Homo sapiens: one gene and its partners. The protein of the gene in region 1 interacts with the protein of each later gene in a biochemical or structural test. Each region holds a gene or a part of one and is shown in the gene's direction. Other genes may lie near its edges.

Region 1 (3,500 bases):
GGGTTAAATCATGCAACTGTGTTTTCCTGTGGAGGGGAGTTGATTCCCCCACCTGCAAGTGGAAGCTTCCAGGGTAGGGGCCCTCTGTTTGTCCTCTACCTTGCATTCCCAGGTCAGCCACATCTGGTGGGTGCTGGTCCTGACATTGCCTTTGGAGAAAGTGGCCATGGTGGCCTGAGTGGAACAGCCCTCCCCTTAAACCCAGGTATGAGCTCTAGATTGGGAAGAGAATCCAGGAAGGGAGAGAGAAGGCTCGTGACTCTTGCCTATCTTGTGTTAGGTAGAAGAACTCTTGGAGTCAAACGACGAGGTCATTATTCTGAATTTCTTTTCTTTTTTTTTTTGAGACAAAGTTTCACTCTGTCCCCCAGGACAGAGTGCCATGGCATGATCTCTGCTCACTGCAACTTCCACCTCCCGGGTTCAAGCAATTCTCCTGCCTCAGCCTCCTGAGTAGCTGGGATTACAGGCACCCACTGCCACACCTGGCTGATTTTTGTATTTTTAGTAGAGACAGGGTTTCACCATGTTGGCCAGGCTGGTCTTGAACTCCTGACCTCAAGTGATCTGCCCGCCTCTGCCTCTCAAAGTGCTGGGATTACAGGCATGAGCCATGCGCCCAGCCCTAAATTTCTTATATAAAGAAATCTCTGATTCCCCTCCCCTAGGGGTATCATTGCCACTTGTTTTCCTTATAAGAAAAATGAGGCCTAGCAAAGCTATATGTCTAGATTTAACGTTATGCCATATTAAGAACCCAGCTCTAATTTCTGCTTAGAATCCATTGTAGTATTATAATATGACGGGATGCTTTGATGACTTTCTTACTGCTCAGCAGACATCCATATTATTCATCCTGTGAAGGAGGTGCTGCCATCCCTGTTTTACAGATGAGAGAACTGAGCCTCAAAGAGATTAGGTCCTATAACCAAGTACATACCTTGGGTAAATAGAAGCACCAGAGGTGAAACTCAGAGTTCCTGCCCTCCCCATACCACTGTTCTCTCAAAGGATTTGCAGAAGTACACAAAGCTACCAGGAAAAGAAAAGCACATTCTTTTTTCCCCCCTAAATCCATCAACTAGCACAGGTGCTATTAGCGAATTGTCTCCACCAAGTGGATGTTTTCGTTTTTTGCTGATTTGCAATTGAAAATAAAGTACACATAATTTGGAAAACACTTAACTTTTAAGGAACACCTTGAAGCTTTCCTCCAACAGAGTTCATTAATTTAAAGTCACTGTATTTTACTATTTGAAAATTTCACAGCTGAATGAGCTTGTGATTTCTGTTTATTGTTAACCCATACTCCTTTCAAAGTACCACTTGAACTTCAGCTGAGTATGATTTTCAGCCAGCTTGTTTTTAGTGTATGCCATCTATTTTTGCTAGTGGGAATGCTTGCCATTTCTCCCAGGAGAACTAACTATAAATTATACTTCAGAGAACTTCTAAATAAATATGTTCATGCCTCAGCACCTTAATGTGTTAATTAGCTATTAACAGTGTCAGTAAATTAGACCTGTCAAAAATAATGGCCTCCTTGACTAGGTTTTTACTAACACTTCTCCTGGTGGTGTTACTTGTAAGTTTTGCCCTCAGGAACTGTTAGAAAGCAAGGCTGTAGAGGTCTGCTTTGCAAAAGATGAACTCTGAAAGGGTTTGTTGGAATCATCTTGGCTCCAATCTGTGGGTGTTGTAAGGACTGGTAGCCTTAGAACACTGAGAATTTACAAATCTCAGGCTTACGAGCAACTCCATTACATTTATGGCTGGCAGGGGAGTTTATCCCCTGCTCTTTGCTCTCCATTTCAGAAAATCTGGCCAATGATCGTCCTTGTAAATTGCCTTCTTTGTGCATGCGCAAAATTAACAAGTTATGGCTGCTGTTCATGCTGGAGAAAGGTACCTCATTTTCCAAATCCGGGTTCTGGTTGGCACAAAAGAAGGACCTGACCAGATCAGAATCTGCCCTGCCCACTTCTCCTCTCATGCTTGTGTCAAGAGACCAAAGTGGGTCCTGCTGCCAATACCAGGGCTGGGACGGGGCATCTCAGAGTGAGAAACTCGGGAAAAATGTTATCAGTGGTGATTACATAAAGTTCAAAGACTACTGTTATTTTCCCTGTTGTATTAAGAATCGAATGGGTTGGCCTGGGATTCTACCCACTGTTTATCATCTGGGAAATGCATTCCGCGTTCTAAATGACCAGATTGTAGAATTTAACCTTTGGTAAATTCCCGACAACTTGCACTTTCTGTTAACAAAGCATGGAAGTAACTAAAGGCAATGCAAATTAGGGTACATGCTAATGTTTTCTGGGAGTATATATAAATGGATGAGTCCCCCATTTTTTTGTTTATTTAATGACTGCAGTCAGAGTCAGCTATAAAACCTCAAAACCATAGATTAAAATGAATTTCACAAAAAGAGCGAAACCACACTGTCCGAGTAGCCCTGGTGGCAAGTGATGAACCAGTTTGGGTTATCCTCACAGGCTCTCTTCAAACTTGCAAGGGACTGACAGGCTTCCCCTCTCTGTCTTGCCTCTACCTGCTGTCTGGGCTCTGGCTGGGGAGCTCGAGGACTGAAGTTTAAAATACAGCTGGTTCAGCATTTGGCAGCGGAGACCCAGATAGCCCTGCAGCACAATGATTGCTATGAAAGAAGCCTTCATTATCCTGTTTTGCTAAAAATAAGTTTGTTTTGCTGTTTTTGATAGCCACGGTGTTAGTGAAATTGTTTTCTGTATGGAAATATTTCACACTACACAATGGAAGGTCACTGTCCTTGCAGTCTGCATTTGTGGGAGTCTAAAGTGTTTACAATTAAGTAGAGCAGCTCCTGTTTGCTCTTCAAAAATGGGTCCAAGGAATAGGATTAAAACTTCAATTTCATTCTTTTCCAAAGAAACACAGACTGGGGCCAGGTGCAGTGGCTCATGCCTTTAAGCCCAGCATTTTGGGAGGCCAAGGCAAGAGGATCGCTTGAGGCCAGGAATTCGAGACTAATCTGGGCATTACAGCGAGACACTGTCTCTATAAAAATTTAAAAATTAGCCATAGGTGGGGGCAAGCGCCTATGGTTTCAGCTACTCAGAAGGCTAAGGCAGGAGGATCTCTTGAACCCAGGAATTTGAGGCTGCAGTGAGCTATGATTATGCCACTTCCCTCCAGCCTGGGTGGCAAAAGTGAGATCCTGTGTTAAAAAAAGAAAAGAAAAAAAGAAACTGAACTGGAGGCCACTAGTATGTACTCCCTAAATTCATGATTATCATGGTCTCGGAATTATTATTTATCATGGCTCTGCTTGAACACCAATAATAAATGACTTATCATATATTGACACATAAGAGGTTTTTTCCAGTTAAAAAGTTTAATTCCAAACGTAAACCTGATGTAGGTATATATGTTTATTTGCTTAGCAGATACTTACTTACACCCGGTATGTGCTACTATCACTATTTTAGATCGAAATATGGCATTGTTTCAGGCTGAAA
Region 2 (3,500 bases), on another chromosome or scaffold:
CCCCTCCCGACGTTTCTCCCCGCCCCCCTACATGTACGTCGAAAATTTCCAGAGACTGAACCTAGTCCCTAACCTCTTCCAGCCACATTCTGGAAACCCTGGCACCCATTTCTTGTTCCCCATTTTCTCCATGTTGCCTCCCAATCCTGAGGAGCCTTTTCTTCAGTGCCAGACACCACCCTCCCTCCATGGGGGTGGGGCAGGGAGAGGTATTGGGGGCTCGCTGAGATAAAAGTTTACCTTCATTTCCTCCCTAGAATAAATGATGAAATGGCCCTCCTCATGTTTCCATTTTCTTTGGGTGCACGCTGACATTTCCTCCTCAGATTCAGGAATTTTCTCTCTGAGGTGGAGTGAAGATGGAGAGGCACTGGACTCAAACCCTCCCCCAGACTCCAAAACTTGGAGCTTTGGTCCTAATTTACCTTGCAGGGAATTGGAGGCCTTGTGAAGGAAGAGTGGATAGCGGAGAGCGGCTTCCACCCCTTCCCCCAGGTCTCAATTCTGGGGCTTGCCCCTCAGCTTGTGCACTGCCCAGGTAGAAGACCACCTTCTCAGGATGTGGAATGAACAGTCTCTGTTGGTTCATAGAACTCCTTTATTCAAGACAGCTCAGCCTTGGAGGAGGGCTATTTTGTGTGTTCTCCTATTTTCCTTCTCTACTTTTTGTGCCCATCGGATTGAAATCTGGAGTTCAGGATTCTCTCCAAGTCTGTGGCCCAGAGAATAGACTCAATCTTGCTGAGCCCGTTTTCCTTCTTTAAGACTCTTTAAATGTATCAGGGTGCTTCTTGATTTGAGTTGTCTCTGTGTTCTGGGTTTGAGAGTTTTCGTGCTGACAGGACCACTTCCCTTCTCCCATTCTCTTACTGTACCCTTACTCTACAGCCAAAGTTGTGTTATATTCTCAGCCTTGATTCATCATCTTTAACATTTTCAGAATCCTACTCAAGGATTGGCCATTGACCTTGATAAGCTTCCTCCCATTTGATCTCGCAGCTGCTGCCCTCTAAGTATTAGGGCACTCTCAGCCTCTCAGAAACTTTTGGGAGGGAAATTCTGCTCGCCCTCTCTCTTTTTTGTTTTGGAGATGGAGTCTCACTCTGTCGCCAGGCTAGAGTGCAGTGGCATGATCTCGGCTCACTGCAACCTCCGCTTCCCAGGTTCAAGCAATTCTCCTGCCTCAGCCTCCCATGTAGCTAGGATTACAGCCATGTGCCACCACGCCCAGCTAATTTTTGTATTTTTAGTAGAGATGGGATTTCACCATGTTGGCCAGGCTGGTCTCTGACCTCAGGTGATGTACCCACCTCGGCATTATAAGCATCAGCCACTGCTCCTGGCCTCTCTCTCTTTTTGAGACAGGGTCTTACTCTGTTGCCCAGGCTGGAGTGCGGTGGCGTGATCATGGCTCACTGCAGCCTCCACCTCTTGGGCTCAAGCAATCCTCCCACCTCAGCCTCCTTAGCAGTTGGGACTACAGGTGTGCACCACCATGCCTGGCTAATTTTTGTATTTTTTGTAGACAGGGTTTCACTGTGTTGCCCAGGCTGGTCTCCAACTCCAGCTCCTGGGCTCAAGCTGTCTGCCTGCCTCAGCCTCCCAAAGTGCTGGGATTGCCGTGCCTTCTCTTTTTACCCATGTGTACTGGGCGGTGCATTCTGTCTTCTTCAGTTCCTGAGGGATCCCTGCGTATGATACCTTCCCCTTCCTGAACCTGGAGCTTGGAGGGTCAGTCTCTGTGGAGGCCCGTTCCAGAGGAGAGGAGCAGGCGAGGGCAGAGGCGGACACGGAAGGACCCAGGCAGAAACGCTGTCTTCTTCTGCTGTCTCCATCTGCCCTTTTCCTCCTTCTCTGGCCCCCAGTTAATCTCATTTTACTGTTGTCCCTATTAAGCTAGCACAGGAGGCCCTTGGGATGGCAGCTGATTAACTGGGCAGGGAGTCAGGGGTCATGTTGGGCCTTTCACCCCAAAAGAGCAGAGGGAGACCAGAAATTCACTCTGAGGCTCAGCATGCTACCCTCCTCCCCAACCAGGGAGGCTGGCACCCATTCTTGCCCCTGTCCTGAGCCCTGCTGTCTCTGTTCTTCCCCTTCCTCCCCCAGCCCATGCCCTTATAGCATAACCGGATTAGCTGGCTGGGCTGTGGGCTGTTGCAGGGGTAGGGCCAGACTCCCGGGGCCCCTCTGTTGACTGCTTGGAAACCAGCAAGGGCAGTGAACTGGACAGGCTTAGCCTTGTCCTGTCTCGGGGGCTGATACCAAGTACCTTCTGGTGGAAGGGGTGACTTCAGTCCTTGCCTAAGGAGTGCAAGGTAAAGGAGAGCCAATCACCTGTGGGGTAGAGGCTGCAATGGGGAGACTGAGGCCATGGAGGTGGGGCGCGGGGAGGATGCCATGCAGAGTAGGAGCAGCCAGAGGGGTAGGGGAGGGGAGGCTAGAACAAGAGTGAGTCTGAGATGGTGAGAGAAGCAAGGAAGTTGGGGACTGGAGGCAGAGAATGGAGATGTGAGTGTCGGGGCTAGAGCTCTGAGAAGCTGGAGGGACTCGAAGATGAAGGTGGTGGGGAAAGGGGTGAAGACACAGATGCCAGAGGGGCTATGCCCACCAGAAGGCCAGTGTCCCAGGATGTGAGGAGTAGGAGTTGGGGGATGGGATTGGGACCTGGGGATTGATGAGAGGTGCTGAGGCCCTGGCGGGAGAGGGGGCTGTTGGGAGAGTGGAGAGAGGGGAGCCAATGGGCTAGAGGAGAGGGAGGGGGAGGAGCTGGTCAGGCCCCAGGGCCTTCCGCACTGCACTGGCTGGGGGAAGAGGCGGCGGCCAGGGCGGCCAGCCTGGAGCCTGAGGCACCGGGCTGGCCCCAGTGACACCTCCGTCCCCATCCCCAGAAATACCGCTACCAAGATGAAGACACGCCCCCTCTGGAGCACAGCCCGGCCCACCTCCCCAACCAGGTAAACGCCCCCGAGCTGGTGCACGTGGCGGAGAGGAACTTGTCCCACCTCGAGGCTGGCCACGGGGTCGTGGGCCACGCCCACCTCTCCCCCTTCAAGGTAGGAGACCCTGGTGGCCCCCTCCCCAGTGCGGCCCTCGGAGCCTCGGAGCTGCAGCAATCCCTAAGGGCCGGTAGGGTGAGAGAGAGCCGTGGGGAGGGGGATGCTGGGACTGGGGGCGGGGGTTTGGGGCTTGGGCTCCTGGGGTCTGGGGGAGGGGGCGTTTGTGGGGCTGGAAACACCTTGGTCCCACAGAGGAGAAACAGGCCAGGCCAATGGGAGTGGATGTAAAGCCTAAAGCAAGAATGTGTGTGTGCGCGCGTGCCTGTGCGCGTGTGCTGTGTGTGTGCCTGTGCGTGTGTGCATGCATGCGTGCCTGTGTGTGTGCTGTGTGTGTGTGTGCGTGCGTGCGCCGTTTGTGTGCCTGTGCGTGTGCTGTATGCGTGTGTGTTGAGGTGTGTGCATCCCCCAAGAGGCCCCCACGCCTGGGACCTCTTCATTCCTTCA
Region 3 (3,500 bases), on another chromosome or scaffold:
GCTGAGATTGATATTTTTGAATACTTAAGAGCCAGGGTTTATTGAACTCATACTCTGTTCTAGAACTTTACTAGGCATGGGAGACATGGAGATGAATGGGTACCACCCTTGTCTTCTAGGAACTCATGGTCCAGGATAAATAATATGATATTTTTTCCTTTGTGGTCATCAGTTCAAGGAATACCGGTCAAAATGGTAACAGAAGATCAAATTTAAAATTTAAATTCATGGTACAGGTTCACCAATGATTTCCTAGAGAGATTGAATTGCCAGTTTGTATTGTCATTCTTTAATCTCAGGACTAGTACCTGTTGGGCCTTATTATTTTTATTCATATTTGGTATGACACATAATAGTACTCCATAGCCCTTTCAGTTGTGCTTCTTTGATAAGGTTGTACATTTTCTGTGTTAATTTCCAGCTTGCTTTCTTCATGTGAGAGTTGTCAATTCACTTGCTTTGAGCATGTGAAATGTGGGTATCTACTATGTGTATTTATGCCCATTCTTCATATATTTGTATTATAAGCTTTCCCCACTTCAGGATTTTTTTAAATTTACTTATTTTCAGCTGCTTTATTGATAGATAATTTACATACCATACAATTCCCCCATTTGAAGTGTACAATTCAATGGTTCTTAGTGTATTCACAGATCTGCAACTGTCACAAGTCCATTTTGGAAGGTTTTCATCCCCCACAAAGGAAACCTATACCTATTAGCAGTGACTCCCAAACCTCCCAAACCTCCCTCCCTGAAGCCTTGGACAACCCCTAATCTACTTTCTGTCTCTATAGATTAGTCTGTTCTAGATATTTCATGTTAATGGAATCATACAATATGTGGTCATTTGTGACTGGCTTTCACTTAGCCAGATTCATCCATGTTTCATTCCTTTTTATTGCCAAATATTCTGTTCTGGAATACGGTATTTTATTTATCCATGTCATTAGTTGATGGACATTCGAGTTGTTTCCACTTTTGGACATTTACAGAAAATGCTGCTATAAATATTCATGTGCAAGTTTTTGTGTAGACATTTATTTTCATTTCTCTCCGGTACATACCCAGGAGTGCAATTGCTGGATCATGTTGTACACCATGTTTAGTCTTTTAAGAAACTTCCAGACACTTAAAGGACTTTCTAGAATTTCTATTCAGTTTCATTGGTGAAAGCCACACTATGCAGTTTTGATTATTGCCTTTGTCTGAAAGGAGTGCTTACTTTTCAACTGTAACTTTTCTGAAATCTAAGTATTTCTGATAGAAATTTAGAGTTCAAATTGATACGCGCTGTAAGTGTAAAATAGACCCTGGATTTTGAAGACTTAATATGAAAGAATGCAAAATCTCTCATCAATAATTTTTTGTATTAACTACGAGTTGAAATGATACTATTTTGGATATATTGAGTTAAATAAAATATATGTTATTAAAATTTATTTCACTTATTTTTTTCCTGTTTTTATGTAGCTATTAGAAAACTTAAATTTACGTATGCGGTGTGTATATTTCATTTGGACCGCACTGCTCTAGAAGCAGTGCTAGTGTGCCTATTGAAGAAAGTAGCCCCAATTTGAAACCTGCTTCCCAGCTGTATGACTTTAAGCAAGTTAAAATCTCTCAGAGCAAGATTTAGTCTTTTCACCTATAAAACAGGAATAATAATTGTACCCACCTCAAAAGTTTGAGGGTTGAGTGAGATATATATATATATATAATGTTAAATCACTCCCTAAAATATAGTTAGTATTCATAAATGTTATTAATTATTATTGTCGTTATTGCTGTGATTACCATCAATTTGTCAAGTTGTTTTTTAATCTGGAAGAATTTTTTATTTATATTACATTAAATCTCTATTTAATTTAGAACTTTTTTTTTTTTTGATACTTAGTGTTTCCATCCAGGAACCCAGCATAACTTTAACCCAATTATTGTGTTTTCCTTTATTGCTTTAAGGAAAGTTATATTATTTTCTTTAAATAAATCCTTCTTCCCCTGAATTACATTAGTACACATCACTAGTTTTGTTACTTGAATCCTTTCTTGGCATTTTCTAGATATTTAGCATTCACTCATTAAGAATGCCTAACACCGAATGTACATTCAGCTAATCTGCTTTTAATGAATTGTTTGATCCTTTTTGTGGCTGTGTTTTGTGTTTTTATCCTGCATCTCCACTAAACTTATCTTCTGGCACTAAAAATTTTCTTTGTTCATCATTTTCTGTGTGAATGTCATCTGCTAAAAAACAAAAAAAAAATAATAAGGTGGTACTTTTCCATTCCTGTGCTCATTATTCCTCTTGTCATTTTTCCTTCCCTGATAACTATTATTAGCATTTATCCTACTACATTAAATAAAACACCAAATTGTTTGTTTGTTTGTTTTTGAGATAGTCTCGCTCTGTCACCCAGGCTGGAGAGCAGTGGCATGATCTCAGCTCACTGCAACCTCAGCCTCTTGAGTAGCTGGTACCACAGGTGTACACCACCAAGTCCTGCTATTTTTTTGTATTTTTAATAGAGACAGGGTATTGCCATGTTGCCCAGGCTGGTCTTGAGCTCTGGGACTCAAGTGATTAGCTAGCCTCAGCTTCCCTAAGTGCTGGGATTACAGGCATGAGGCACTGCACCTGTAATGTCAAATGTTGATTTTTGACTTTTAGTATAGAGTGTTATTTATTGCATTTAGAAAAACCTTTTTATAGCTCTAAATGTTTTTTACAAAATCAGGAATAGGCTGGGTGCGGTGGCTCCTGCCTGTAATCCCAGCACTTTGGGTGGCTGAGAGGCAGATCACTTGAGCTCAGAAGATTGAGACCAGCCTGGACAACATGGAGAAACCCCATCCCTACTAAAAATACAAAAAATTAACCGGGTGTGGTAGCACGAGCCTGTAGTCCCAGCTACTCAAGAGGCTGAGGCATGAGAACCGCTTGAACCAGTGAGCTGAGATCATGCCACTGCACTCTAGCCTGAGTGACAGAGTAAAACCCTCCCTCAAAATAAATAAATAAATAAATAAATAAATAAATAAATAAATAAAAGATTGAAAAAAAATCAGGAAGAGCTATGGGCTTTATTTAGTGTGAATTTTCAGTTTTCTGTTTCTTCCCTCTCATTAGGTCTCTCTGCTGCTCCAGCTCAGTATTACCTGCATGCTGGCCTAGAAGAAAGACTCCCTCTGCTTCTAGGTTGTGTGGGCTGGGTCATCTATTCATACAGATCCTAAATTTGCTCTAAGTCAGGGCCTGGGGGGGATCCTTGGTGGATAGTGTACACGAGACTTTGGACTTGTGCTTGTCACTTACATTTTGGCTCTGTGAGACAGTTTTTCATATTTCCGGATCCTTGTTGAAACTGGAGATCATTATAAATGAGAGGGAGATGATTTTCAGATAAGTGAGGGCCTATTGCATTAGGCAGGGTTCCTGAAAGTGTTTGGTAAATGGATGAGAATAAATGATAGACCTTAACCGCAGAGTCCCAAGACAGC
Region 4 (3,500 bases), on another chromosome or scaffold:
ATTTTGGCTAAAACCAAAAAGCCTGATTCAGAAATGTAGTTTTATTATAAGTTCATGGTTAACTGTTCAGTAACTTGGTGAAATAGTTCTATTATTTATTTTTTGCTATCCACCAGTATTATAGGAAGGAAATTTAATTAAAAAACATTAAAAATGCTATGGAAGTGGAGACATGAGCCAATAAAAGTTAAGGAGTAATGAGTACAGGCTGAAACAGCACGCTTAACTCAACCCATGTGTCTAGATGCAACTGTGTATAGAGCATGTCAGACAAGTGTCTGACTTCATAATGCCATATGGTTTCACTGTGTGAGCACAGGGGCTTCGTTAAGGTCATAGTGGTATACTTTGCTCTTAATTTCCTTCCATTTATTGGTTTGTGCCATTATTTTAAATTAGAATTTACATTTAATTTTTTTACTAAGATTACTGTAATTGGCTTTGCCTCCAATGTATTTTTTTATTTTTTTTTCTTTTAGAAAAATGTTGCCACACCTGTTGTTGAATAAGAAACCTAATCTAAGTTAGATCATCCTAATAAGTAAATTATAGTGGCTGCTCTGCTAGATAAAGCCTCAATGAATTCATTAGATACCATCGCAGAGGGGTGCTGAATGCTGCTTGTATTGAGGGCCATTGGCTTTCCCAGTAAAAACAAAGCAAACATAAAAAAAACACCAAAGTTCTTGCAACTAAAATGCAACTTAATTTTATTCAGATTTTTAAAATCAATGTGGTTTTTGTGAATTAAAAACATGAAATCTAATTCGTTTCAGTACAGATGCATAATATGCCTCAGTTTCATAGGGAAGACAGCTAAACAGGAGAGAGAAGGAGAAGGACTGGATGAAGGCTGATAAAGACTGTGAGAAGAGATGTTCAAACCAAAATTCTAAGCTGGTAGAGTCACTGAGGCTGTGTGACATTGGGAAAAGAACAGGAAGGGGGCAAGGAGAAGATGTTGGTGCCTAAATGATAATTAGAAGAGCAAGAAGAATTGTTACCCCTCTAATTCTGTGAGGCTGTGGATTTCAGCATCCTTTATCACTGTTCATTAATGCAAATTAACTGGTTAGTCTCGGCCTATAACTCCTCGACAGCATTAATCTTTAAATTCTGCGAGTCTTGGTCCCAAATGAGACAGCTACCACAGCCCACCAGTTCAGGGCAAAGAGGATAATGAGGTATTGTTTTCTGAGCCTTCTTGTATTGGTCTGGATGAAATCAAACTGGAGGGAATCTATCCCTTCCACGGAGCAGAGAGGGCAGAAGTGGTTTGTTGCCAGGGACCAAACTAATAAAATCAGTCAGTTTTACATTTTACCAAAATTACCTCTGACACATGGGTTTTACAGTTGGGCTTATTCTGTCAATAAATTTTTCATGGAAAGTTAGATTATTTAGATCAGTGAGGTTCACATAGCATACTCCAGCTGTAATATGCCAGCTAAATTGCAACCCAGTGGCCCGAAAGAATTAATTCATCTCCCAAAATGTGAAATTAAATCCTAGGGAGTAACATTACATGACTGATGATGTACTGAATTAAATTAAAGGAAGACTTGAATGCTTGTTAAAAAAATATCACTTACATAAACACGTTTATAACCACATGTGAGCCTCCTAATGAATCAAGTTATTGTGAATCCACCCTAACAAAAATCCAAAATGTGAACTCTTAGGATGCTGTTTAATTTAGGGAAAAAACCCATAAGTTTTATCTATTATTTTAATGTGTCAAATAGTTTCATTTTTAATACTGTGTTTCAAGATTAAAGTAACACAGAATATGACTAATTTGCTAACCTACTGGAACTAGGAAATGAACCACAAGACCCCACTGCACACTTGTGCCTATGACCCTGAGCCTTCCCTGCAGTAGATGGCATGGCTGTTTGCTGTTCTTTCTCCTGCAGCAGCGTGCTGTATTCATTTAACATTTTGAAGTGAGACCCAAATATCACTGCCATGCCTGTTGAGGTCTTGAGATGATGGGAGCTCATTAAGGGGACAGAGGTTCAACTCCGTGGCCACTCCAAACAGGAGGACTACTTTCTCTAATACTTGCATTGTAGATTCCCCTTTTCTATGGCTGACCCTGTTATTTACACATAAAATGTACTCATGTTTTATTTAGGTTTGAAATTTAATGTGAAGGTATTTTGTAATAGCACACATGGATTTTATACAAAAGAGAGTGACAAAGTCGAAAAGCAAGAGTATTGATAAAGTGCAGATCACAGTTTCTCCAAATGTAGCAGACTCCTCTTGCAGGACATATCTATCTTTCTTACTCTGGACACAGCTAAGCCTTGTCACATCACGAGGAGAAGGGAAATCCCACAAATAAGAAATAATGAAAATATGTATAAGTTCCATTTCTTACGGTTTTTGGTTTAGTTTTGGTTTATATATGTAACAGAATTGTGTATGTATGTGTGTACACACACACACACACACACATACACACACACATATTTTAATTCTAGTGGCTATAGTTTTCTTTCTTCTTTCCTTCTCTTCCAACCCTCCTGATTCTAAGCTACAGCCACAAAAATCCAGAGGCCTCTTTGTATCCTCTCTAATTTAGCCTCTTCTTGGTTGAAATTTTGGACAACTCTTCCCAAAGCCTGCCTTCATCATGTCGCTGCCCTACTCGGAAGCGGGGTCTGCTAGATGCCCCCCTCCAGGTCCATCAGATTAAGTTCATTGGCTGTTTGTTCAAAGCCTTTGTGTGTGGCACTGGTCTCCCATCTAGTTAGCTCTCAAATCTTTGAAGGCTCTAGGCTTGTTAATGTCTTTAGTTTTTGGACTTCAGCTGTCCCCCAAATGTATAGTGAAATTACCTGGTCCTGGTCCTATGACTTTGTCTCATACTCCTCCATCCTGATCACACAGGAAACACCCAACACATACTTGATTTGGTAGCACCAACAAATGGGATCCAGCTTCCTTCTAAACTGAGTAATATGATCTGAGCTTAAATGTTTCTTTACTTCTTAAAATGCAAATTTTTAGAATAGGTAGTAAGACTGCAAAAATGTTACTGTGAATATCCTAATGCTCTCCCACTGCTAAACATCACGTTGCCACGTTGGCACTAACTCAGACTTACTATAGTCAGGTGTGATGCCCTTCTCCAAACCACAAGTCTTTGGTGTCAACTCCAGTAAACTAGCCTTTCAATAAGTTTACTGCAAGCATGAGAAATGAAGTCGCAGATTGATGTTGGTACTTATGCATATTTATCTAGAAGGGCTTTTTCTCTTGTAGTCAGTTTTGGCTTTTTTTGGATTAGGGATTAAAATAACAAACAGTTGCCTGAATATAAAGTAAAATTTCTTTTGTAAATAGAAATCAATATGTATTTCTGAATAGTTGCAAGTGGAGAAATAATTAGCATTTATTATTCAGTAATTATATTTCAATCTAAATTTTGCATTTAGGATTCTAGGACTCTTCATCCGAGGCATTGAAGACAACAGCAGGTCCAAGCGGGA
Region 5 (3,500 bases), on another chromosome or scaffold:
ATTCTCCTTGATTCAGGCTGCTCTCCTTGGAGTTAGAGTTTGTCAGTCAAGAACGCTTGCCAATCCCAAATAAAATGATGCTTAGAGCCGTTTAAAAACTGAGCCTGCGTTGTCCTTTAGTAACAGTGAAGTGTGTATGAAGATGCACCAGATCAGTCTTCTCAGGACAACAGGTCAGAAAACGGAGGAATTTTTTTTTATTGCATGCACTGGATGACTCAGAAGCTAACTCTCATTGTTGACTGAAATGAGAGCGGCCTGTGCTTGCCTGGATAAAAAGTCCTGTCCCAGTGGCTGGATGAGGGGACGATCTGAACCTTGAATCAGGAGGCTGCTTTCGTTTCCTAAAACCCAGATCTCTGGTAAACAAATGATGGGAGAGCCAGAAAGGAAGGTTAGGAGGTCAGGATCTCGGTACTGGTTTCCACATCCTGCCACATTCCAGGAGAGTTTTGCCTGATAAAGTCATAGCATGTGCGGGCCAGAAGGGACCTCAAGGATCAACTTGTCCTCATTTTTTGGGGTCAGGGTGCTGATGGGGAATGCACCATAATAGCGGCACCACACTAGCTGCGCTGAGGGCTAATCGGAAACTGTAGCTGCTGAAAACTGCATCAGATACTGAGGTTTAGGACCCAACTTGTGTGTCCTGGTTTGGTGCCTTGAAGAACCTGTTACCTGTGGTTCAGCCATAAGGAGACACCCAGGTGTTCATAAGATCTTCCTCAACTGGATCCCGAGAGTCAAGGGCCTTCTCCAAAGGGTGGCCAGAGCCCTGTGGGCACTGGGAGCCTGGGGGTGTTACTGCCACCTTGATCCTGCGGACTTGGAATTCCCATCCAGGAAGGTCTTGTAATGTGGAAAAAAAAAGTTGTGAACTTACCCTGGGATGATGACAGTAATATTTTTAGTATACCTTAGTTTAGAAAATCTAACCAGATACCTTGGTTAGAGATAGTACTCTGAGGTGAGTACTATTTCAAAATGAGTTTGGATCTTGTTCATTCTAATAGCATCTGTATTCACTTGAAAAATGGTTGTACATCAGTGTAGGAGATGTGATATGTATTGAGTCCGCATGTATTGCTCTGTAGGCAGGTGAATTTAAGGACCTATTGCAGTAATTGATTGGCTTCCCCCAAGCATCAATGATCTGTCAATTTGGAACCACTGGTTTTAGAAGCATCAGTCTGCAGAAAACCAGCCGTCTATAGGGAATGACCCTAGTCATTTTGGGAGATTAAACCAGTATAAACCTATACTACCATACTTTAGGATATCCTTGATTGCTTTTAACAATTTTTTTTTAAATTTTTATTTTATTATTATTATTATTTTTTGAGACGAAATCTCACTCTGTTGCCCAGGCTGGAGTACAGAGGCATGATCTTGGCTCACTGCAACCTCCACCTTCTGGGTTCAAGTGATCCTCCTGCCTCAGCCTCCTGAATAGCTGAGATCACACCCGGCTAATTTTTTTGTATTTTTGTTAGAGACAGGGTTTCACCATGCTGGCCAGGCTGGTCTCAAACTCGTGGCCTCAGGTGATCCGCCTGCCTTGGCCTCCCAAAGTGCTGGGATTACAGGCATGAGCCACCATGCCTGGTCAACAATTTTTTAAATTAAAAAGTAATTCAATATTATTGTAAAAAACATTGCAAAACTGTATAACTGTGAACAATTTAGTGTGCAGTGTTTCCACTTTCTTTTGTATATATAACATTATTAAGATTTTTAAAGAAATAGGGTATTATAGTATATAATGTTCTCTAAATGTGTGTGTGTGTGTTTTTTTAAATGTAATTGTTAACTAATTTTAAGGAAGCAAACGTGGTTCAGTGGGAAGGACATCAGATCTGTTCGGGGTTTGTTTCCTGGCTCAGTAATACACTAGTTGGAGGACCAGTAATATAATAATATACTAGTTGGGTGATCCTGGGTAAGTCATAGGTCTTTCTAAGCCTCAGATCCTGGTCTTGGAAATGGGGACTGCTATTTGTCCTCCTTTCTCATAAGGTTGCTATAGGGATACAATGAGATCATATTAGAAAAGCCCTCTTTGTCAATGATAATATAAATGATTGTTATTATTTAAGCTATGATTTCAGCCCTCTTTTCTTTTTCAGGGCTTTGCTCCATATCAGTGAATACTTAACTTGGTGGTAACTTAGTGGTTTGGAGACAAATAGTAACTAGCCTGCTTTCCCCTTTTTTTCTAGGTCACTCCTGGAAGCAAGGCGGCTCTAGCTAATTTATGTATTGGAGATGTAATCACAGCCATTGATGGGGAAAATACTAGCAATATGACACACTTGGAAGCTCAGAACAGAATCAAAGGCTGCACAGACAACTTGACTCTCACTGTAGCCAGGTGAAGCCTATGGAAACGTTTTGTTCATTTCTGATTGACTAGAAGCTGTTTGTGGGCAGGGACTGCCTTCCCTATCTCAGAATCCCCCAGACCTCCTAGCTCAGTGCCATGTATATACTATAGGCATGCCAAAAGGTCTGTGGAATTTGAACTTCAGATTGCTTATTTCCCCTCTATTTTTTTTTTTTTTTTTTTTGAGACGGAGTCTCACTCTGTTGCCCAGGCTGGAGTGCAGTGGTGCAATCTCAGCTCACTGCAACCTCTGCCTCCCGGGTTCAAGTGACTCTCCTGCCTTAGCCTCCTGAGTAGCTGGGATTACAGATGTGCACCACCACACCCAGCAAATTTTTGTATTTTTAGTAGAGATGGGGTTTCACCATGTTGGCCAGGCTGGCCTCGAACTCCTGACCTCAGGTGATCCACCTGCCTTGGCCTCCCAAAGTGCTAGGATTACAGGTGTGAGCCACCGTGCCCAGCCCCCCTCTGATTTTCACGGTGCTTATGATGTGGGCTTCTTTCAGTAAGATACTTGCATTTTCACTTGATCCAACTCAACCAAAATTTTGAGTAAGTAAAATGTCCTGGCCAGGTGCGGTGGCTCTCTTTGTAATCCCAGCACTTTGGGAGGCCGAGGCAGACAAATCACTTGAGGTCTGGAGTTTGAGACCAGCCTGGCCAACATGGTGAAACCCTATCTCCACTAAAAATTAAAAAATTAGCCAGGTGTGGTAGCGTGCACCTGTAGTTCCAGCTACTCGGGAGGCCGAGGCAGGAGAATCACTTGAACCCAGGAGGCAGAGTTTGCAGTGAGCTGAGATGGCGTCACTGCACTCCAGCCTGGGCGACAGAGCGAAACTCCATCTCAAAAAAAAAAATGTCCTTAGGATGCTGCTGCTACTGCATTGTGCTGAGCAGTGGGTACCATGCCAGGAGATTGCAATAACAGAGAAAAACTTGAACACATTAGCAGCAGAGTACTGAGTGTAACTTTAGGTACATGACAAGCAAGGAGCGCTGGGGATAAAAGAATGAATGAGGGTAGCACCTTGGGAGCTGTAATTAGGGTAGAATTTCCATTCTTCTTTCATTTAGCCTTGGAAGGGGTCCCGCAAAGGCAGGATTTCGGAAG
Region 6 (3,500 bases), on another chromosome or scaffold:
GATCATTTGGCGAGAAACGCTATGAACCCATCCAGGCCACTCCCCCTCCTCCTCCATTGCCCTCGCAGTATGCCCAGCCATCTCAGCCTGTCACCAGCGCGTCTCTCCACATACATTCTAAGGGAGCACATGGTGAAGGTAGGAAGTTCGGAAGTAGACATTTTAACACAGTAATGCTTATGAAGTAAAATTCTGGTGGTTTCTAGGCAAAATGGTTTTTACATTAAAAAATACATGCTTGAAACCTTTGGGCTGGGAACAGTAAAAACTAAGAATTTTGTTAAAAGTATGTCTCCTGTTTTTACAAGACCATTATTTTGGACAAGCCTTTTAGCTAAACAGATTTTAATCTATTTTATGCTAGTCTCTAAATCTTCTGGAAGTAGTGTTTGCCAGTATATGTAAAGATGGTTTGTAAAACCTACTATGTTTTATCTCACACACCCAAATAGAAAAGCCATAATGTTTCATATAAAATGTATCCCATACACCTTGACTTTTGCATTTACATACCAGGTAGATCACATATAGCTCCAGATTATTCATCTTAAGAGCTTTGTAACATTTTACCCTCAGCATATAACACAAAGTGGTTATCTCTTCTGCTGTGGACAGGCATTTTCCTAGCACAGACTTCTCTTATTATTCCCTTAGGAGGCACCTCCTTGGGCTTGTGAGTCTTCAAGCAGATGTGTTATAGTTCTGGATTGAGGCTATCTTTTATTAAGATTTTTTTTCACACATGCCCATGTTTACAGATAAAGACAGTTTTAATTCTTACTTTCCAGTCCTTATGCCTTTTCTCTTTTTTTTTTTCCTCTTTTTGAGACGAAGCCTTGCTCTCGCCCAGGCTACAGTGCAGTGGCGCAGTCTCAGCTCACTGCAACCTCTGCCTCTCGGGTTCAGGTGATTCTCCTGCCTCAGCCTCCTGAGTAGCTGGGACTATAGGCGCACACCACCACGCCCGGCTAATTTTTGTATTTTTTGTAGAGACAGGGTTTCATCATGTTAGCCAGGCTGGTCACGAACTCCTGACCTCAGGTGATCCGCCCACCTCGGCCTCTCAAGAGTGCTGGGATTACAGGCATGAGCCACCGCACCTAGCCTTCTTTCTTTTCTTGCTGATTGCACTGGCCAGGACCTCCAATAAACTCTGAAATGTAAGTGGTGAAATTGGACCTCTTTTGCTAGTTCCTGATTTTAAGGAGGAAGGACCTCATGTTTTATCCTTTAGAATGTTAGCTCTAGGATTTTCGTAGATGTCCTTTATCATGTTTAAGACATTCCCTATATTCAGAGTTTGCTGAAAGCAGTCAGATGTTTTTCCTGCATGTATTAAGATGACCATATGATTTTTCTTCTCGTACTGTGGAAAATTATATTACTATATTCATGAGGTATTTGGATTAATAATTCTCCTGTCTTGTAGTGTCCTTAATTATTTCACAGAGTTCAGTTGGTACTGTGTTACACTGTGGCTGGCAGTGCATAAAAAATCCTGTGGTTCCACTTTTTAACCAATGTTTGGCATCATCAGACTTTTCGGTTTTTCCATTCTAGTGGGTGTGAAATAGTATTTAATGCTTTTTGTTGGTTTTGTTTTACATTTTTCTAATTAATAGTGAGTATCCTTATTATATGATTATTGGGCATTCTAGTTTTCACAAAGACTAGTGCCAATCTTTGGAGGCCAGGAATCTTAGCAGCTGGACCCTGACTCCAGGGCAGCAGGGTATATATATTCATGGCACCACCTGTCCATGCTGCCCTCATCCCTCAGCATCACACCTAGCCTCCAGGGCTCAAGAGTCAGGCTCTGGCTGTGCGACCCACATTTGGGCCTCGACTCCAGCACCAGGACAAGTTAAGCTGGGACAGGGCTATTATAACTTTTTTCAGAAAGTTATTTAAATGCTTACGTTTGTTTTTCAGGTAATTCAGTGTCATTGGATTTTCAGAATTCCTTAGTGTCCAAACCAGACCCACCTCCATCTCAGAATAAGCCAGCAACTTTCAGACCACCAAACCGAGAAGATACTGCTCAGGCAGCTTTCTATCCCCAGAAAAGTTTTCCAGATAAAGCCCCAGTTAATGGAACTGAACAGACTCAGAAAACAGTCACTCCAGCATACAATCGATTCACACCAAAACCATATACAAGTTCTGCCCGACCATTTGAACGCAAGTTTGAAAGTCCTAAATTCAATCACAATCTTCTGCCAAGTGAAACTGCACATAAACCTGACTTGTCTTCAAAAACTCCCACTTCTCCAAAAACTCTTGTGAAATCGCACAGTTTGGCACAGCCTCCTGAGTTTGACAGTGGAGTTGAAACTTTCTCTATCCATGCAGAGAAGCCTAAATATCAAATAAATAATATCAGCACAGTGCCTAAAGCTATTCCTGTGAGGTAAGACTTATGCCTTTGCTCAAAGCATTGGCCCTGTGATTTTTCTCATGTGAGTTTGTTGTAGTTTATTTGACTTGGGACTTTAAAGTGATCTTTTTAACTCAACCTTTAAACTGAAGAGTGTTGTTGCAATGAATGCTGTTACATAGAAGGTCCTCCAGGAGGTACAAGATGTTGGTAAAATAATAAAGCTAACAGTCGTGTATGGTTGGTAGGTATTGTCATCATCCCTGTTTTACTAAGAACTGAGGTTGAGTGACAGTAAGCAGTTTGCCCAGGGTCACAGCTAGAGTGAGGTGAGCCTCAATTTAGCTGCTGGTCATCCGACCTCTGAGCCCATGCTTTTTTTTTTTTTTTTTTTTGAGACAAGAGTCTCCCTCTGTCGCCCAGGCTGGAGTGCAGTGGTGCGATCTTGGTTCACTGCAACCTCCACCCCCTGGGTTCAGGCAATTCTCCTGCCTCAGCCTCCTAAGTAGCTGGGACTACAGGTGTGTGCCACCACGCCTGGCTAAATTTTTTGTATTTTTAGTAGAGGTTTTCACCATGTTGGCCAGACTGGTTTTGAACTTCTGATCTCAAGTGATCCATCCGCCTCCACCTCCCAAAGTGTTAGGATTACAGGCGTGAGCCACTGCACCCAGCCAGGAGCCCATACTCTTAACCAGCCATGACCTTTTGTAACCTCCTGACCTACTGGTAAGGTGCATGTGGAGGACATCTAAAAACATTAAGTATCTATGTTCCTCATTCATTATTTGTTCCACAATGATGCTAAGAAGAAAAATAGAATAACCTCTGACTGTTTAAAGAGCAGCAGTTAGTGAGATGGCTGAGCAAATGAGACAAAGTGAGCCCACCTGGAGCCTCCCTGCAGCTCCTCTTTCCTGTCTTTCATTCCACGGCGATTGACCAGATGGATTCTGGCCATACATAAAAGCTCATCTCAGCCTCCTACAGCCAGTTCCATTTTCACGCCACCATAAAGCAGAAGCACTTGCAGGCAGGGAGAACCAAAGGTCAGGATGGCCACCTGAGTCTGCTTTCCAAGAGAAAGGATGGTTATGGCGGTCACTGCCTTCCTAGCTCTGCA
Region 7 (3,368 bases), on another chromosome or scaffold:
CTGAGCAGCTCTTTGGTAAATGGGAATGAGTGACGGTCAGGGGAGGTAACAGTGCCCTGGCCAGGCCTCCTCCCTGATAGAGCCAGAGGACAGAGAAAGGGCTGAAAGGAAGTCACTCCTAAGGGCTCCGTCGTACTTGAGTGTTGTGGCCTGGAGCATCTGCTGAGGGAGGTTGGCAGGGAGCGGGGTGGCGGGGGTGGCTGAAGGCCCAGGGGCAAGAGGCTGGGGTGCTGCAGCCTGGGGGGTGTGGCTGGCCAGAGGCGCTGAATGCCAGACCAAAGGACCTGGGCTACTGTGAGAGGCTGGGGGCAAAGGTCAGAGTTCCAGGAACCTCCTCCTCCTTCTGCTTCCAGGTGACCCTGCACAAGGACCCCATGCGGCATGACTTTGGTTTCAGCGTCTCAGATGGCCTCCTGGAAAAAGGTGTCTATGTCCACACTGTGCGCCCTGATGGGCCAGCCCACCGTGGAGGCCTCCAGCCCTTCGACAGGGTCCTGCAGGTAATGCTGGGGCAGGGGCTCCATAGTGGGGGTGGCATTGTTTCCTAGCCTGAGGGTGGGGAAAGAGCCTGCATCTATCGCCTGTGAAGAGGGCAGGACAATGCAAGTCTGAGTCAGGTTAGCCAAAGTTGCATTGCGGGCCCCAGCACCCTCAGCCTCAGAGGCTGAGCACACACAGACCTTTCTTCTTACACCCCATGCCCATTGTGGGCTGGTGGGGGCCTTCTTGTCCCGGGCTGATGGAGCATCCGCCCATCTTGGAATTGACCCTCTGAGACACGTGGCCTCCTCAGACTCCACAGCAGAGGAGACAGACTGGAAAGTCACACGTGGATTTTTTCCGCCTTCACCCAGAAGCAACACTCATCACCTTGCTTCACAGCCGATGGACCAAACCCCTCATGTGACCTTCCTAACTAACTGTGAGGGAGCCTGGGAAGCGTGGGACATCGTGTACTGGGCACTCCGTGCCGCCCCTTCTCATGCCCTGGCTATTTTTGCTCCCTCAGTGTGTTTTTTGCCATATTTATATGAAATTTACTCAATTCATGTTTTCTCTAAATTGATGGCACTTTTTCAATTTACATTTGACTTTGAAAGGAAACTTTTTGTCTCCATTAGGAGTGAAAATCTTGCACCCCTTGCTTTGAAATAGAAAGTGGGTGTAAAATGCAAATAAAATAGAAAGAAGACAATGTCACATCACACAGTTCTAGGCAGGAGGCTCTCTGAGTGTGTGGTCTGCTCTTTCATGTGAGAAAGGGAGAAAAGCAAGAGTTAGAGGGGTATGAAAGGTATACCTGCCCCTTCCTAGAACTTTCTCTTTGATGAAACCTAACAGAAGGACTGAGAGAGAGTTAGAGGAAGAATGTTCCTCTGTGTGTGGTGCTGGTGATGTCAGGGCTTGCGTCAAGGCTGGGGCAGGACCCATCTTTAGGACATCACATGCCTCTTGCTCCCTTCAGCGCAGCAGGGCTGACATCTCGGTTCTGTTCCCTTGCTTGTGCCCCATGCAGGTCAACCACGTCCGTACACGGGACTTCGACTGCTGCCTGGCGGTGCCACTCCTGGCCGAGGCGGGTGATGTCTTGGAGCTGATCATCAGCCGCAAGCCGCACACGGCACACAGCAGCCGGGCCCCCCGATCGCCAGGCCCCAGCAGTCCCCGGATGCTCTGAAGTCAGCATGTGGGCCGAACTCCTAAGGGGCCACCCAGGCAGATCCTGGCTCCCAGACACGTAGCTGGGCTGGAGAAGCGGCCACCCACTCATTCATCTGTTGGTCTGGCAGACTCTGAGCCTGGGATGATGCTTGGTCTCTGTTCCCCAGGTCTGTGGTGACTGGGGTGCCAGGCAGGGAGGTCCTGCCCTAGTTGGAGTGACAGCTGGGGTCTCTCGCCAAGTTGGGTCTCCAAGATGCCCAGAGGAGCCTCCCTTAAGAAGGGTTGGCACAGGCTGCTCAGCCGAGAGGAGAGAGGCCTGGGGGCTGTCCCAGGTCTCTGTGGGGCCTCCTTGGAGAGGTCGAAGATGTAGGGAGCACTTCCTCCCAGCAAAGCCATGGAGCTGGAATGAGCTGCAAGGAGGAGTGAGTTCTCGGTCACAGGAGGTGAGCAGGCAGGAGCTGGATACCCCAGCGCAGTCATGCATTGGGGTATGAGGCATTCCCATGATGCGTGCACACGCGCTTGGGGGTTGGCTTCCTGATGGGGAGCCACTTCATCTAGAGACTCGGCCACCAGGAAGGATGCTGCTTCGGATGGGAGCCCAGCTCCTTCGCTTCTCCAGAATAGGGGTTTGGGGCTTGCTAGTCCTGAGATTCTGAGATTCCCAGAATCTGGTCCCCACTTATGAGACTCTTAAGTTGGGGCGTCTGGGATCCCAGGAAGTGCTGGCCCTTTGATTCTGAAAGTGGGTGATTCTTTGATTTCAGCATCTCAGTCTGAAGCTTCTGGGACTTGAGACTGTGGTTCTGGGCCCATTGGGCAGGCTCTATGGGCCTTGGGCTCTCAGCCCTCCTGCTTCTTCTGTAGGCCGTGTGGCCACTGACCCATCTGCACGTCCGCTCAGCCCAAGCCCCTCCATGTGGGAGGGGTCATTTTGGGGCAAAAGACCCTGGAGCTTCCATTCACCTGCCATCCAGTGAAAATTGAAAAGCGATGGACGCAGGACCTGTGAGGCGGTAGCGCTCCTCTTTACAGCCAGATCAGTGGAGGAAGAGGAGAAAGAGGGAGGGAGATGGGAGAGAAATGGGCCAGAGAAAAAGATGGGACACTCTTGCCCAGTGGAGGGTGTCCAAAGTGCTTATTCAAAGAAGTCTATTCCCACTTGAAATCTGGAAGCACCAGCATCCCTTAAAATCATTGTCCTCAGTGTCCACAAATCAGAGACCCTCTTCATTTTGAGAAGGGTGTGGGCCTCCCCTGGTGGTCTAGTGAGTGGTGCCTGGGATGGAGTGGGCGGGCAGGTGTAGCCAGGGCTGGGGATGTGCTTTGCCTGGCCCAGTTCTCACAGGGGTCTCAGGAAAACGGGGCACCCACTCCCACCTCCATCTGTCTCCAACCTGGGGTCCCTGGAGGCCAGAAAAGTGCTCTTCCATTTGAGGGAACAGATGAGGAGTCAAGAGGTCTGTTCTTTTCACCCTGGGTCTGTTACCTGTTTGCTGTGTGACCCTGTCTGGGTTGGACCCCCAGCCCCTCTGGACGATCACGGGTGGACAGTCTGAGCAGACACAGGCCTCCTGGTCAGGGCCGGAACCATCTCTGCCGACCCACCAAGGCCCCCTTGGGGACCTGCCCACGCTGTCTCCTGGAGGCCTGCCTCCCTTACCCCTCCCCTCCACTTCGCTGGGCTCTGCCCCTTGGTGCCCTCC

The links.
Region 2: the proteins of CLDN10 (region 1) and DLG4 interact in a test that uses a peptide from one of them, tested with the Homo sapiens proteins (one large-scale study listed by IntAct).
Region 3: the proteins of CLDN10 (region 1) and FRMPD1 interact in a test that uses a peptide from one of them, tested with the Homo sapiens proteins (one large-scale study listed by IntAct).
Region 4: the proteins of CLDN10 (region 1) and PARD3B interact in a test that uses a peptide from one of them, tested with the Homo sapiens proteins (one large-scale study listed by IntAct).
Region 5: the proteins of CLDN10 (region 1) and PDLIM1 interact in a test that uses a peptide from one of them, tested with the Homo sapiens proteins (one large-scale study listed by IntAct).
Region 6: the proteins of CLDN10 (region 1) and TJP1 interact in a test that uses a peptide from one of them, tested with the Homo sapiens proteins (one large-scale study listed by IntAct).
Region 7: the proteins of CLDN10 (region 1) and GRIP2 interact in a test that uses a peptide from one of them, tested with the Homo sapiens proteins (one large-scale study listed by IntAct).

Annotation. Positions count from the first base shown.
Region 1 is NC_000013.11:95,555,720-95,559,219, forward strand, and holds part of CLDN10 (claudin-10), read left to right. Parts: exon of another isoform or gene 1-205; intron 206-1,779; exon of another isoform or gene 1,780-1,859; coding exon of another isoform or gene 1,860-1,905; intron 1,906-3,500. UniProt on the Homo sapiens protein: Forms paracellular channels: polymerizes in tight junction strands with cation- and anion-selective channels through the strands, conveying epithelial permeability in a process known as paracellular tight junction permeability.
Region 2 is NC_000017.11:7,207,628-7,211,127, reverse strand, and holds part of DLG4 (disks large homolog 4), read left to right. Parts: intron 1-2,888; coding exon 2,889-2,954; intron 2,955-3,500. UniProt on the Homo sapiens protein: Postsynaptic scaffolding protein that plays a critical role in synaptogenesis and synaptic plasticity by providing a platform for the postsynaptic clustering of crucial synaptic proteins.
Region 3 is NC_000009.12:37,702,954-37,706,453, forward strand, and holds part of FRMPD1 (FERM and PDZ domain-containing protein 1), read left to right. Parts: intron 1-3,500. UniProt on the Homo sapiens protein: Stabilizes membrane-bound GPSM1, and thereby promotes its interaction with GNAI1.
Region 4 is NC_000002.12:205,115,475-205,118,974, forward strand, and holds part of PARD3B (partitioning defective 3 homolog B), read left to right. Parts: intron 1-3,446; coding exon 3,447-3,500. UniProt on the Homo sapiens protein: Putative adapter protein involved in asymmetrical cell division and cell polarization processes. May play a role in the formation of epithelial tight junctions.
Region 5 is NC_000010.11:95,270,504-95,274,003, reverse strand, and holds part of PDLIM1 (PDZ and LIM domain protein 1), read left to right. Parts: intron 1-2,219; coding exon 2,220-2,371; intron 2,372-3,500. UniProt on the Homo sapiens protein: Cytoskeletal protein that may act as an adapter that brings other proteins (like kinases) to the cytoskeleton. Involved in assembly, disassembly and directioning of stress fibers in fibroblasts.
Region 6 is NC_000015.10:29,707,469-29,710,968, reverse strand, and holds part of TJP1 (tight junction protein 1), read left to right. Parts: coding exon 1-138; intron 139-1,932; coding exon 1,933-2,410; intron 2,411-3,500. UniProt on the Homo sapiens protein: TJP1, TJP2, and TJP3 are closely related scaffolding proteins that link tight junction (TJ) transmembrane proteins such as claudins, junctional adhesion molecules, and occludin to the actin cytoskeleton.
Region 7 is NC_000003.12:14,491,975-14,495,342, reverse strand, and holds part of GRIP2 (glutamate receptor-interacting protein 2), read left to right. Parts: intron 1-353; coding exon 354-500; intron 501-1,516; coding exon 1,517-1,678; 3' UTR 1,679-3,368.